Linked DNA regions of Homo sapiens: region 2 is linked to region 1. The links come from fine-mapping of genetic effects on gene expression. Tissue or cell type: aorta. Region 1 holds a variant in brackets; the other region holds the start of a gene. All regions are shown on one strand. Distances are between the middles of the regions.

Evidence for each region. PIP is the estimated chance that this variant, and not a neighbour inherited with it, causes the effect.
Region 2: it holds the start of SH3RF2, and the variant in region 1 is fine-mapped to the expression of SH3RF2 in aorta (GTEx, PIP above 0.99).

What each region holds. Positions count from the first base shown.
Region 1 is chr5:145,973,752-145,981,859 of GRCh38, forward strand. The region is part of intron 2 of SH3RF2 (SH3 domain containing ring finger 2); the gene reads left to right. All of the region lies in intron 3 of LOC107986458 (a long non-coding RNA gene), which reads right to left. Among named protein-coding and RNA genes, the nearest start is that of SH3RF2, 41 kb to the left of the region's middle. RefSeq lists an enhancer at 5,595-5,889. The variant G/A (reference allele first, on the strand shown) is at 3,340.
Region 2 is chr5:145,932,691-145,940,798 of GRCh38, forward strand. SH3RF2 (SH3 domain containing ring finger 2) reads left to right here and starts at 3,888. Exons shown (of 10, transcript NM_152550.4): 1 at 3,888-4,004; 2 at 5,133-5,616. The coding sequence starts at 5,239. LOC107986458 (a long non-coding RNA gene) reads right to left here. Exons shown (of 4, transcript XR_001742913.2): 4 at 3,011-3,073. RefSeq lists an enhancer at 3,626-4,203.

The DNA of each region.
Region 1 (8,108 bases):
ATGGAAGTCGTTCTACTGCATTTTCTACTTAGACATATAATTTGATTATGGAATTAGTGAATTAGTTGAAAGGGGTGAGGAAGAATTATGAAAGTTGTGAATGAGTAAAAAGGGGTGAGGGAGAATTGGAAAAGAAGGGACATTCATTTTCTATGCTGTGTAACAAATCATCACAAATTTAGAGGCATAAAACAACACACACTTATTATCTCACAGGTTCTGTGGGTCAGGAGTCTGACACAGCCCAGCTGAATCCTCTGCCATCAAGAGGTTGGTCAGGGTAGGATTCTTATCAGGAGGCTCGACTGAGGAAGGGTTCACTTCCAGGCTTGCTCAGGTTGTAGTCAGAACATTTCCTTGTGGCTGTAAAACTGAGAACCCAGGCTTCTTGCCTGCTGTTGGCTGGAAGCTTCCTTCAGCTCCTAGAGATTGTCCTCAGCTCTTTGCCATATGACCTCCTAACACAGCCACTTCTTCAAAGCCAGCAAGGGAGAGAGTGTCGAGCAAGACGGAATCTTATATAACATGAATTAATCATAGGGTAGTGATATCTCATCACCTTTTTTATGTTCCATTGATTAGAAACAAGCCACAGATCCCACCTATATTCAAGGAGAAGGAATTTCATGGGGGTAGGAGCACCTTTGGTCATGGTAGGAATCATGGGGGCCACCTTAGAGTCTGTGTTCCAAAGATGGATAGGAAAGGAAGGAAAAGAAGAGAGCAAGAAGAAAAGAAAAATGGAGGAGAAGAATGTATCTATGTATATATAGCATTTATTAACCATATATTATGAGCAAGGTACTGTGCCAGTTATCTTCACATGCATTTTATTATGTAATCTTTCTCCAAACCCCATGTGGTAGGTGTTAACTATTGTAACGACTTACAAAAGAAAACTAGAATTCAGAGACGTGAAGCAAGTTTCCTGAGGTCGTACAGTGCAAAAAGTAAAACTAGGAGTCACACTTGTTTCTGCTACACTCTATAGCCCAAGCTTTACCTACTACCCTGTAGTTTAAGAGAGGTGGGAGAAGGAGGAGAAAAGGAAAGAGATGGAGAAATGAGAGATAACAGAGCTTCCAAACATATGCAAAGTTGTTCCTAAAAGAGATGACAATCAATAAGGAAATCTGTAGGTCTACAATATATTGAATCGGTTTTCCCAAGAACCACCCAATTAAAAAAATAGAATCTAGAACTGAAGCCTGTGGGATCACAGATGAGTCTCATGTGTCTGAACTCTTTTCTGGCCCACCTGAGTTTCAGAACCTGGAACCAAACACTACAGCCAAGCTATGTCCAGAACCTTGGAGACACCTGGCTCATCCAGGCAGTGCCCTACACGCATGTTCTGCCAAGCTTCTGTGGGAGAACATCTGGGCCCAGGCAGCCAGGCCAGGGCCTGAGTTTGTTTTTCATGGCTCGTTTGCAATGTCCTGTTCTATTTCTGGACACTCCGTCCTTCCCAACTGACACTGGAGCTCAGTTTCCCAATAGCCAGTTTAACAAAATGGCTCCAAAAGTGCCACTCAGCACTAGTCATTGGAAACCAGAATTTTCCATCATTTACTCTAAGAAGGCTGGCTGAACATGGCACATCCCTGACTCCTGTCTTAGTTGGCCAAGTCTCTCATCTTAGAGGGGCAGCTGCAGACATCACAGGAAGCCTCCTCATGCAGACACAAGGTGACTCACAGCAGTGAGAGGAAAGAAAGGTATTTGGATATCAGATCCCCCTTCCACCAAGTGAGGGAAGGCAGGTGTGCTAGTCCTAGCTCCCACCCCAGCTGTCTGCACTCTTTGACTTGATAACAGCCCCAGCTGGTTCCCTCTGTGCACTTCTGTCCATCTTTCCAGAGTGGGAGATGAGCAAGAATATCTGTGATCTTGGTGGTTCACAGTCAGCCCTGCTAGAGTCTAACCAAGCAATGAACCGTGTTGAGTTCAAACTTAACACAGGACCACTGGACCCTTGGCAGAGAGCCAAAGGAAACAGAAGATGTTGAATCATTCCCCTACTGGGGCAGTGCCTAGCTGTGGAGCTGTAGGGCTGCAGACAAATCCCTGCTCTGTGCCTCACATCCCTTATCTGTAAACTGGAGATAATTAGAGGCCCTGCCTCGTGGATTGTTGTAAGGCTTAGATGAGATAGTACATTAAGACATGGTATCAATTGACCAATAAATGTTACTTACAGTAGGCACTCAATAAGAGATCAATGGTGTTGCCTCAAATACATCATTATACAGCTTGCATAAGATAATGACAGGTCACATACACACCAGTGAAGAACCTTCTTTTGTAACGAGGTGGGTTTTTAGTAAATATTTGTGGAACATTAATCGACTTAGAATATTGAACAACTACAATAGAGAAGCCACTTCACATAATGCTACATAAAGAGGAATAATTAACAAATGCAGGATATTGCAGGGGAAAGAGGCCAGGATTCGCCCTCAGACCCCACCACTTACATATCAGCTGTGTGACCTTAGGCAGGTTAGTTCACCTCCCTGAGCTTCCAGTTCTTCACCTGTAAAATGGTTGTAATACCTGCCTCATCAGCTGGTTGTAAGGATTGAGTGAGATACTGTATCTAAATGCACTTTAGCCCAGTTCTGGACCCACAACAAACTCAATAAATGATGACTTTTATTAGCTATTTTGCAGACTAATGGAATTAAGAAGGAAAAAAAAAAAAAGGTGGGGGGCGGGTTTTGGAAACGCACTTGCCTAAAGGCTAAAACACTGACTGCTTGGAAACCACCACGTAGTTTCACTCCCTAAATTGAAAGAAAGAATGCCTCATTCAAGTGCCTGATTAGGAATTTGAATAATCTAGTTCTAACTAGAAAAGTCAAGAAAAACGGAAGGTATTAGTCATTGACTGATAGAATATCTGAGCTGGATAGAATCCTAGACCATATTGACCAGAAGTGACTTAGCCACTGTCACATAGTTAGCCCAGGCAAGACTAAAACATGATACAAAATCTTGCATGCCTAAGCCATCGATTAATAGCTGGGCTTACTAGCCAGTTATCCCCATGGTTCTCAGTTAAAGGTCATTTGACACCATATAGAGGTCACCCACTGTGTGGGCAAGTCCTGTTGTTTCGGTTAGAGCCTGTATAATAAGGCATGTTGGAAGAGGAAGTCCTTCTAAGACTTACTCATAAAGTACCCCCTTCCCAGAGTCTGGCTCATGCCCTTATTTGTCTATACACACTCTAGGCAAAGTAAGAAATTGTTGCAGTGAAATGCACTCATGTGCTCATGCCAGCTCATGACCTCAGCCAGTCCACACCTTCATCTCATTTACAGATGGGAAAACTGA[G/A]GCTTGGAGAAGGTTGCCTCGGCAGAGGCCAAGCAAGGGGAAACTGGGGCAAGAGCAATATCTTCTGATTCCTAGTCCAGGGCTCTTTTTCTTAGGCCCGACTACCTCCTGCACATGCTAAAACAAAAGACAAGACAAGGTAAGCTATTGTCGCTTATCATCTACACTTTGTTCTGACATATATGGTTACTATTTTTCCACAGACCATGAGGAAGGGAACTAACAGTCACTGAACACCAATCATATACTATTGATGCCTTGCTTACATTAATTCTCATCACATACAGTAATAAAAGCTAGTACCTATTGAGTACTTACTGTATGCCAGGCACAGTTCTAGGGGCTTTACATATATCTGTACAAGGTACCCAGCCAAGGAGATACTCTGTAGGCTGAATTCAGCCTCTGCTTACCAAGCTCTGAAATGGGACCACATTAGCCCCATGGTAAGAGTGCCTTTTCATGTAACTCCTGTGCCCAAAAAGATGCCCTTTCCAAATGTACACAAAGACAGGTATGGACATGTGGTGGGGGTCTTACAGTATCCCCATATGGCTGGTCCTATTACTATCAGCTTGCTGAGATGTCACAGCTAGTTTGTGGTAGAGGCAGGACTTGAACCCAGGATTTGGCCCTTAGCTCACATTTAGCCTTCCCAAGAAGCAGCTTGAGATAGGCTCTAATGCTACATACACATATACCTCAAGAACAGACATTCTGACTGCCTTGTTCCCTAACGTAGCTCCTGTATCTAGAACAGTTTTGGCACACACAGGCACTCAGTAAATTTTGTGGACTGATTGACCCCTGTTTCACAGATGCAGAAACTATGTGTCAAAGAAGTTAAATGACTTGCTTAAGGTCACACAGATAGAAAGTTTAGATGGGATTTGAAAGCAAATCACTGACTCTAAAACCCTTATTCTTTCCAAATTAACATCCTGTCATTCATAAGCATTTATTGAGATTCTTACACACTAATTCTGTGCTCTGGAACATAGGGCCAGAAAGATTTGTAAGATTTGGTTCCTACTCTCAAGAAACTGGGATTCCGATTATCTGCAAAAAATCATATTCCTGAAATCAGATTCCCTAAATGAAAGCAAGTCCATATGGTATAAGCCCTTGGTACATTTTAAGCCGAGGATACCTTTCCTACCTCCCAAACCTAAGATTATAAGAGTGGCCACCAGAGCCCTCACCCTGGTCTATTTCCTTCTACAACACTGGCCAGCACATTCATAGAACCTGGTTGCAGAGATAAGTCAAATCACTGCAAACTTGGGATGGCCAACGCCCCATCCTAGCTTCTCTAGATTCCTTTGCAGGGATGTCCACAGGGTGCTTTTATATATGTCTTCATGCCCTCCTGCTTCGTCTACTCTTCATGCCCCATCTAAGTGTTTTTGAAAAATGAAATACTTAAGTTAGAAAACCAGACTTAGCAAGTTGTACTTCCAAAAGCAGCAATCATTTCAGTAAATAAACATTTTCTGATTGAGAACATTAATTCAGGGTTTACCTCATTTTCCTTCCTGGTTTTGTTTTCTACAATATTTAGGAGGCAGGAGTTAGTTAGGAGGGTGGTTTTAAGGAAAAAAAAAAAAAGAAAAAAAACACCTCTAAATTCATTAGTTGAATTCCACCAGACTGTGTGAACAATCTCATAATAATCCTACATCAATACGAGAGAAGTTGTAACTAGTTCACTTAGGGTAATTATAGGGCAGGTTTCTGCCAGGTTTTAAAGATAGACTTTGAAATCTTCCTTTTTTTCATTTGCCTCCTGCTGTGTGTGGGGAGAGGCCCTGGCTCCTGGGATATCTGCCAGAGCTAAATGGGGGCCAACTGGAGAAACAGGCACCAAGATTGGGTTCCTGTTTTCCTGTGCTCATACTTCTGGGAACACAGATATCCTACCAAATGGTCACCTGTGAAAAACTCAGGGCCTAGAATCTAAATTCTGTTGGAAAAGAACTGATTAAAGTCCTGGCCCTAAGTAAGATTATGGCAAGGTTTATAGCACAAAATTTCTGATTTTGCGCTAGAACAATAGTTCCCAAAGTGTGGTCCCCAGACCAGCAGGATTACCATCACCTGGGGGAACTGGCTAGAAACACAAATTCTTGGGCCCCACCCCAGACCTACTACAGAAGAAACTCTTGGGGTAGGGCCCAGCAATTTATTGCAACAAGCCCTCCAAGTGATTCCAATGCACCCTAAAAATCTGAGAATCAGTGTCAAGGGACATGATGTTAAACAGCCTTTCCAGGAGATAAGAGTTACTTTTAAAGAGGGATTTGTTCAAACAAAGCATATCTACAAATATCCAAACAAGACCTTTGGAATTAGCTAGAACTAGGCTCTGCCACTCACCAGCCATGGGGCCTCAGATAAGTTATCTTACTGCTCTAAGTAGTGGTGTGCTGGTAAATGTTTAACAAGCAGCTCTGTGGGGGAAATGGGTTCGCTCATTTTCATGGCAGAAATACCCCATCATGGCTACTTTCAAACTATCAACATGATGTCGGCCAACTCAAAAAACTTTTGAAAATTTAACAATTGGCTTTCACAAGCCCATGGAAGCTGGCTCCAGCACACCATTGTCTCTAAGACTCAATTTCCTTATCTGTCAAATGGATGAATAATAGCGTTTACCTCATAGGGATTGTTGGAAGGTTGAAGTGAGAAAATGATAGTGGACTTTTATTGAGTATTTATATCTATCCACCAGGCACTTACTATGCATTATTCACTGACTTCTCAAAACCATACAATAGGTACTGATATTCCTTCCATTTTATACATGAGGAAGTTGAGCTGAAGTAACTAGTCCAAAGTGATACAGTAGCAAGTGGGAGAACCTGAATTTATTCCAGAGCCCGTGAGGTGACAGAGACATTAGCCCAATGCTCAGCACGGGGCAATGCTCAGTAATTGGGAGCTATTATCATAAGATAAATAAACTTCTGAAACGTGCCCTACTTTGGAAGTAGGGATGAACAGTTTGTGTTGGATGAAACCTCTCAGCCCCAGAAGACACATACATTTTCTTCTAGGAGAAAGGCCAGGGTACCTGATGGGAGGACCAGCTGTTGATTATTCATAGTAACAAACGACAAGAGTTGAAGCTAATTGACACCCACACGTAACGAGGCAGTTGTAAGTTCCTCCCCTCCCCAAATTAATTAGGTGTATGTTTTTCCAGGCTTTATCTTTGTGTACACATACACATATGTATTTTGTATTAGATCAGGGTGTACATATTTTTTTGCAAATTGCTTTTCTTTTTAACCTGAGACTAGATCATGAATCTTTCCCATGACAGTCCACCCCAATCTATCTCATTCTCTCTAAAGCTGCTTAGCATTCCACAGTAGTTACTTGCTATCATTTATTTAATCCACAACAGAAGGATACTTAGGCTATTTCTAATTCTTCACTATTATAAATGATCCTGCACTTCACAATCTTTTACATAGATTCTAGCATATGTCTATGGGAGAAATTCCTAAAACTAGGATTTTTAGGATTTGTAAGGCAAAGAAAACACGTAATGTAAATCTTGACCAATGTACCTAGTTACTCCTCACTGTGAAATTTTAAGCTCCCAATATTCAAGGAAGGTGCCTTTTTGCCCATACTCTTACACCAACATTAGGATTACTCTGATGATTTGATTTTTCAAACTTATTATAAGTATTTCTAAATATAAAAATAGAGAAAATAATAATAATGAATGCTTATATACCTATCGCCCAGCCTCCACAATTATCAACATAAGGTCAATCTTATTGCATCTATATCCCATTCACTTCCTCCCCCTACTGGATGAAACTGAGGCAAAGTCCACACATCATACTCTTTCATTGGTAAATATGTCAGGAGCTGCCTCTAGAAAATGAAGATTCTATTTTTTAGCATAACCTCAACATCATTATCACATCTAAACATTTCTTGATGTCATCGCATATGCAGTCAGTGTCTAAATTTCCTCAATTTTTTTTCTTTTTTCTTTTTTTGAGGCAGGGTCTTGCTTTGTCACCCAGGCTGGAGTGCAGTGGCATGATTATAGCTCACTGCAGCCTTGACTTCCTGAGCTCAGGTGATCCTCCCACCTCAGCCTCCCAATTAGCTAACACTACAAGCATATGCCACTACACCCAGCTAATTTTTTTGGCTATTTTTTGTAGAGACAGGGTCTCACCATGTTGCCCAGGCTGGTCTTGAATTCCTGGGTTTAAGTGATCCTCCCACCTGAGTCTCCCAAAGTACTGGAATTGCAGGCATGAGCCACTGCACCCAGACAGTCTCATAATTTTTTGATGGTTTGTTTGAATCAGGATTCACCAAGATCCACACATTGCAGTTGGCTGATAAACTTCCTAAATCTCTTAAGCTCTAGGTTCCCCCACACGCACACCTCCTCTTCCTTTTTCCCATGCAGTTTATTTATTAGAGAGATTGGGTCATTTGCCTCGTAGTTTCCCACTTTCTGAGTTTTTCCTATTGCATCCCTGTGTTGTCATTTAACATGTTCACCAGTCTCTGTGTTTCTTGTAAGTGATAGTTAGATCTTGAACTATGCTGTCTAACACAGTAGACACTAGCCACATGCAGCTCTTCAAATTTAAATAATTAAAAGTAAATAGAATTTGAAATTCAGTTCCTCAGTCACACTAGCACATGGCACATGTTCAATAACCACAGATGGGCAGTGGCTGCTGTATTGGACAGCATAGAATAGCACATTTCCACCATGGCAGATA
Region 2 (8,108 bases), 41 kb before region 1:
TAGATACAGGGGAACAGAAGAGCAACAAGACACATAAGGTCCTTCCTCTCTTGGAGTTTACAGTCTATTTGCGGGAGTTGGGCATTAAATAAATCATTATAAAATAATTACTGAGTTACAGCTGTGATAGCTGTTATAAAGGAGAAGTGTAGGATGACAAACTTTCTACTCATGAAAATCAAAGAAGTCTTCCTGGAGGAACTGACATTTTTTAAAGCTCAAATTTGCAGAGAAGGGCATTAAAAAAGCAAAGCAGGGAGGAAGAGAGTAACTAGGAAGAGAGGAAGGGGAAGAGGGTGTGTTGAAGACAGAAAGAAGAGCATGAACAAATACTTGATGACAAAAACGCTATCCTAAGAGTGAAGAGAAACCCAGTGGGTCAAGAGTGTGCTGAGTGAGGGGGTGATGGGGGTATAAGTTGAAGCAGGAGAGGTGGGCATGAGCCAGATCACGCAGGGCCTGACAGCGCGGAAGAAGGATTTGATGTTATCCTAAGGTTATGGAAACCTACTGAAGAGTTTTGACTAGGGAAACAATAAGACCAGGTTTGCTTGTTTGTGTGTTTTATATACATAAATCTAAATGTACTCATAAATATGCACAGCAGAAGGTCAGACATATCATACAGATTTTTTAAAAGAATGCAGCCAATCATCACCCCATAACTATACAGATAGAAACAGGAGTGTTGGTGGGGTGGGAACAGCGGGAGAAGGGAGGTGGCCTGGAGTCTGAAGAGGTATGCATAGTTCACCTTTTTGTTTGTTTTTAAAGACTACATGTTCATCTGATTTGATGCCAAGGTAGTATTTGGGTAAGCCAGAACAAATCCCCATTTAAAACTCTCGCCCTTCTTTAAAAGTTTCAAGAAATTTTCTCTTCAAGACTAACCTCATGTGGGTGGTGTTGGGGACCACCTACAGGGCGTCGTTTGAGAGGTGCTGAAAGATGACCCCTCGCTTCAGTGTACCTTTTCTCTGTCCTCCATTAGAACCTAAAATTCTACCATCACGATTCTACTTGGCTGGATTTTCAATTGCCAGATTTGCTACAAGAGTAACCCACTGGATCTAGTCTGCCTTCCTGGGACTGAGCTGGTTTGACTGCATTTTCTCAGGGATGGGAAGGTTTGAAGCTTTTAAGACCATTGACCATACAGGGGTGTGGAGGGGCCATGAGATGGGTAGACTACAACCCAGAGGGGCCCAATCTCCTTTTCTGACATCAATATTTTGTCTTGGGTTGGCTCTGAGATCAGCTGGTGTGTACAATATGGGTATATGTGTAACCATGTGCAGATTTAAATAGTAAAGATACATGGGTGTACTTATGATATGTACATGATTTTATAAAATGAAAAGAAACACAGGCCCCGGGATTAGACCAACCTGAGTTCAGATCACAAGGTTTGTAACCCTGGGAAAGTTACAGTATCTTACGGGGTGGTTGGGAGAATTCAATGAGATAATATGTTTAAAATCTTAGCATTGGTCAGTGGCATACAGCAAGTGCTCCATAGGTGTTACTATTATTAAGATTATGTATGTGTGCACCCTTACACAAGTGTATGCATGCATCTGCATATAGGTGCAGATATGAGTATGTAAGGGAGATAGAGTGTGTTTAAGAACAAGAGAAAGAATAATGAAAAATATCGCCAATCTCTGCAACAGGAGTTCCAGCATAGGAGTGGCCCTTTTTACGGAGTGAGACCACTGCAGGGCACAAAGGAAACTGACTCAGCTTTACTAAGTGGGAAACAGAGTAAGAGGACAGTAAACCTCAAGAGCTTCCTTAGTGGCACAGACTCAAGAGTAGAAATTAATAGAAGGAGACAGGCAAGCAGAATGGGATGTGATGTTATCAAAGCTCAAAAGTGACGTTAAAAAAGTAATAGTTGAAAGTGGTCTCTGAAATTGTCCTACATCAAAATTAGGCCTCCGTGCTCAGAAAATAGATAACCATCGGCTCCATCCTAAAGTTCTGGGCCACATGCATGTTTGATGTTTTGGAACTAACATGAAAGAACGTGGAAAAATATGTAAACAATGTTTTCAGACCTCCTGGTCTCCTCTTAAGATTTTCCCATTGAGCTGTGTCTGAACACTCTCTGCATAATAAATAATTGTCATCCTTACGTCTAGAGAGAAGATATAGTAATAACAATAATTTTAAAAAGAACACCCAGTTTCTTTCTCTTTTTTTTTTTTTTTTTTTTTGAGACGGAGTCTTAGTCGCCCAGGCTGGAGTGCAATGGCACAATCTCAGCTCACTGCAGCCTCCACCTCCCAGGTTCAAGTGATTCTTGTGCTTCAGCCTCCCAAGCACTCCCAGCCAACACACCCAGCTAATTTTTGCATTTTTAGTAGAGATCGGGCTTCACCATGTTGGCCAGGCTGGTCTCAAACTCCTGACCTCAAGCAATCCACCCACACCTCAGCCTTCCAAAGTGCTGGGATTACAGGCATGAGTCACCGCGCCTGGCCTCAAACACCTAGTTTCTAGTCCCAATTCTGCCCCTAACTCACTGGACAACTTCAAAGAATCCCTTGATCTTTCTGGGCACAGCTGCCTCATCTGTAAGAGAAAGTGAGTAGCCAGTTTTGTCCATTATCTTTTGACCTCTTGCCCTCTTAGGGGAGGCTTAGCTCCCTTGAACCACCTCTTCACCTCTTTTTTTTTTTTTTTTTTTTTGTCGCCCTGGCTGGAGTGCAGTGGCACGATCTCAGCTCACTCCAGCCTCCGCCTCCCAGGTTCAAGCGATTCTCCTGCCTCAGCCTCCTGAGTAGCTGGGACTTCAGGTGCGCACCACCATGCCCAGCTAATTTTTGTATTTTTAGTAGAAATGAGGTTTCACCATGTTGGTCAGGATGGTCTTGATCTCCTGACCTTGTGATCTGCCCACGTCGGCCTCCCAAAGTGTTGGGATTACAGGCATGAGCCACTGCGCCTGGCCAGCCTCTTAAAGTTATATCACTCCATGACATTGTTAAGAGCACAGCCCACTTGCCTTCTGCTAGCTGTGACTCCCGAGATGAGTTATTTATCCTCTCTGTGTCTCAAGTTCCCTCATCTGCAAGATGAAAGTAAAGAATAGTTTAGTGTCTCCTTGGGTTGTTAAGGGGTTAAAGGGCTAACACAGGTAAGGTATTTAGAACAGTGGTTGACACAGATAAGGACTACCCTGGCATTAAGATTGTTATTATTCACTTAATCGGATACCTTTGTAATTTTACATGAAATGTATTATCGATAAATCAAAAAATAGAAATATAGGCATAATCTGAGGATATGAAAAGACTACAGTGGATAACAGGCAGGAGGAGAGCTTGGAGGCCACTGCTTTTCCTTTTTTGAAAAAGCTTCTCTGTGCTTTGATTTTTCACGTATGTGTATATACGTGACACTAGTTTTTTAATTTAAACAGATTGAGCAAAAAGATCACTAAAGTCCCTCTTATCTCTAAATTCAGAGATTGACTATGATTTTCAAAGAGCAATATTTTCTAGGTGTCCGACTTATCCTTGTTTTCATAGCTTGACCATTTTTACTTTTGACCTTCCCAGGAAATCCTTATGAAGATTTAAAATAAACACAATCACTTTGGTATGTTTATAATGGAGCAGGTTCTGACTCCTTGGATACTACAGAAAACGGGAAAGGTGAAAATATGAACTTTGTAAATACTTGGCCTTAGGGACTGGCTTATATTTTACCTCTTACAATCTTTTCCCAGAAGCAATTCAGTAAACTGAAGGAAAGATCATAAAGTTAACAACTGCAACAACAAAAGCGTGGTAAGTAGGCAGCGCCCTGGCAGTGAAAGCGTTAACAGGGCTGGGTAAGGCGATCCCTTGAAATGAGTAAGACTGAGTGGTTAAAGTTTTCAAAGCGGTTGGCAGCAGCGGCGCTTGGAGGAAAGGAAGCCGGTTGGAGGGCGCAGCGCACCCCTGCTGCGCGGAGGAGGGGGCTGAGCTGAACTCAGCAGAAGTTACATGCACAAGGTTAGTGGCCCCCACACGCCTCCCCAGCCCGCTGCCGCGCTGACATCTTTGGAGAGGAGGCTTAGGAAGGCGAGGCGCCATCGCTCATTCTCGGTCGTGTCTGTCCTGCTTACTAGTCGCTAGTGGGGCCACTGGCCTTCTCGCCAAACCTCTGGGCTCGGTGCTTACCGAAGCCCTGGCACTTGTGAGGGACAGCTGACTTCTTCCAGACTTTTCTAAACTGGAGGCTTCTTTTCATACATCCAAAAGGAAACTTGTTTCTGGAACAAGTACTGTTTTCAGAGTACACACACACACGACCCCTACCTGTATATGCTGCCCCAGTACGGTTTTTACAGGTCGTGACCACAATCCAGAATTCCTATCTGCTTCATTTGAAATTGAGAACAATGTCAAAGTAACTAAACAGGCTGCACTACTTTACCTTGTGGGAGGAACATTGTCTCTGAGCCTAAGGTAATCGGGATGAGGAGAGAAAAAAAAAAAAAGATGAAAAAAGAAAAGAAACAAAGCTTCCAAGCACCCTGACCTGTGGTTAAGGCAAAACAATTTTTGGAAATGGGTTTCTAGTGGAAATTTTTCTTGTACATTGCTAGAATCATGTGGGAAGGTATATTGTGAAGGAAATAATTCTACATCTGCATGAGATTCAGATAAACTTACCCACCTAAACTAATCTGCATGTGGTGCAGATAATAGATACATTTAGATTTAGGGGAAGGAGGAGGAGGAGATAGCTTCACAGAAATTGCGTTCGGAGGGGGCTTTGTTGTAAGAATTGAGACTGTCCAGGAGCTTTCCCCGGGCAGGGGGTAAAGGACCTCTTCCCGCCCTGGCTGGTAGAGAGGGGTTGGGGGGCCACTTCAGCAGGCCAGTTTATCTCCCTGCTTTCCTGTCCACATAGGCAATAAGCAGTCAGTCTTGTGCTGAATGTTCCCTCTGATCCTCACAGCAAGCACGAGTTGAGTCTTATACCTGCTAGCATTGAATCAGAATGAGTCATTTGAAACTTGGGTGCCGGAACAAAGTACTTGCAAACTGCCTTATGAGACACTGCCTCAATGTAGGTGGGATATACCTCTCGGAGCAGTCACATTTTTTTTTCTCTCCTCTCCCTCCTTCAAGCAGGCAAAAATTCTGACGTTCTCAAGAGACCAGCTCTGCCCCCGTGGCTCAACTGACCCTACCATGTGGACGCTGCTCCTCCAGGTGGGAACTGGAGTTTTGAAATAAAATGGATGATTTGACGTTACTTGATCTTCTGGAGTGCCCTGTGTGCTTTGAGAAGCTCGATGTCACAGCCAAAGTCCTCCCTTGCCAGCACACCTTCTGCAAACCATGTCTACAGAGGGTTTTCAAGGCCCACAAAGAGCTGCGGTGCCCCGAATGCAGGACGCCTGTGTTTTCCAACATTGAGGCGCTGCCGGCCAACCTGCTGCTCGTGCGCCTTCTGGATGGAGTGCGCTCAGGGCAGAGCTCCGGGAGAGGGGGCTCCTTCCGCAGGCCTGGCACGATGACCTTGCAGGATGGCAGGAAAAGCAGGACCAACCCCAGACGTCTGCAGGCCAGTCCTTTCCGGCTAGTGCCTAATGTCAGAATCCACATGGATGGGGTAAGAGAGATCTTATTTGCTAATATCATGTCCACATAGAGGTTGGATTTGTGTATACAAGGAGCTAGAGATTATCTTCTTTTAGTTACATTCCAGAGTGCTGCTGTTGATTTCCCAGTGATAAGTTTCTGTGGGCAGTGATCATTTTACTCAAATACAATGAAAACCTGAGCCTATCTAATCCATCTAAGAATTCTCTTTAGAACTATTAAAGCTTCCTAGGTTCTCCTTTCCTCTAGTCCAGAAAGTAGTAGAACAAGGAAAGCCTTTTAGATTATATTTTTGGTGTTTCACTTCTGCTGTTCTGAGGCCAAACTAGTGCCTGGGAAATGCACGGAGGGTGGGGAGAAACAAAAGAGAGAAAACAAATCCAACTGCTTGTTGCTTTTGAGATCTCTCAGAAATTTCCAAATGTCAGGTTTTGTTTGAATTTTACCCAAATCCATCTTCCCACCCCTAGTCATAAAGTGCTATTATGGCAATACTCATTCATAATCTGTTCCAAGCTATCAAGATACTTGACGCGGGAGATAGTGCAGGAGGGAAGCATCTATGTGGGTGGACTGATTGATAGCAAAGGCTGGGCTGTGAAGTGCTTCAGCTGTGTATAGGAGCTCTGCAGATGTGTCTCATTTTGCAAAATGAATGAAATACAGAGAAGATACACAGCAGGGGCTGCAATTAAAAAACCAAACAGACCCAGTTACGCCTCACAGGAGATTAATGCTTTTCATGTTTGGATAATGGGAATCGCTCTGTCCAGCGCTGAAAGCACACCCCGAGGACTTTATCTGACCTGGCTATGAACCTTGTTGTGGGATAATGTGTAAGGGCACATCTGGAAAGAAGGACATGGTCCTTGTGAGTCCAGCAGAATTATTTGCACTGTCACCCCTGGAGTCAGTGTAAAAAAGTGGACACGGAAAGCTGTGGCTTGGGCCATTGGCATACTTAGAAAATCAAAGCTACATTCCTTGAAGTCTTACCTAGAGCAAGCATTAGAGTCTAAATGCTGGCAGCAGTGTCCCACATCTCCCTGCTCTGAAGAGGAATAACGTGTGGGAGGGTCTTGCAGGACTGCTTCCTTACTCAGGAGTGAGGAGTGGCTTGTGATACGCATTTGGAACAACTTTCCGAAATTTTCCTTCTAAGAGCTACCACTTCCTGGGTTCACTGCATCTTTAAACCACCCATGGCGCATGTGTAAACATTCAACAATGAGGGTGGGAAGAAGCAGGACATTTTTTCACTGTACACCCTTGATTTCTTCACTGTAGGCTTTTTATTGCCATTGTGCTTGTAAGTGACACATTCCAGAAAAGGGTTTGGAACTCTTTTTAAGTCCCTCCACTACCCCTGGTCTAGTCATCAATCAGAATCCACAGGTCTGGAAATGGCGAAGTAGGGGTGGGGAAGCAAATTGTTCTCAAACATGCCTTGTTTGTAGAGAAAAGAGCTCTATCTCTGGGTCAGCAAATCCCCCTTGAATTCCTAAGACCTAGCAACCTCTTCCCTTCCCCACCTTGCAGAAGTCTGACCTGCCTTTCAGCGGAGTATCATCACTTACTCAGGAAACGGTGTCACACTGGGAGGAGGCAGTTCCCTTATCAGCTTGGAATATTTTTGTTGTGGTTTACATCTTTCTCAATGTGACTGTGTTGCAAAGGACAGGTAGCGATGAATGGATCCACAGCTACCAAGTTTTTGAACTATAGAGGATTCTCAGGGCCCTTCTGGCACAGGGAATTGAGGTGAGAGCTGGTTGTACATAAGAGACAGCCATTAAGATACTGGGTCTCTCTGGAATTCTTTTGCAGGGACTTATAACATCAGACTATCGTCTGTGCCCACCCTCCAAGCTGCTCTGGACCAAGTCCTGTGGTGAGGCTGAAACTCAAGGGCTCCTGTGTTCAGGCAGGACCTGGGCTAGAAAGATGCTCTGCAAGAGAGCAGAGCTGGCACCCCCACTTCCCAATTCCTTTATGTCCTAACTATCCTTTCTTGAAGTGACTCCTCTCATTCCTTTTGCCTTCCTCAGTGGGGATATGAACAAACCTATTTCTGGATGTCAATATGGCTGCTGTTCTGCAACGTGCCTCTGCTCCCAAAAATATTACCTATCTTTTTTGCAACCATGAAAGCAACCATGCATCCCACAGTTAAGAGAACTGAGGGTTGTCTGGATGCCACAGTCTGTTTAGAGAGTCAGAGGAATGGACTTACATCCTCGGTCAAATCCTCCTGAGTTCCTTGCCCTCTCTGCCACAGTTCAGCCAATCTAGTCAAAAGCTACTTGCTACCCACCTTCCTCCAGGATAGTGTGAAAATTATCTTTGCAACATACTTTTACTGCCTTAGAAAACATCTGCTATGTAAATGCAAAGCATCATCATTAAGATTCATTTAGACATGCTGTATGACTTTGGGCAAGCCACTTATGTTTGCTGGGTCTCAATTTAAAATTCTGTAAAATGGGAAGATGTCATGTATAA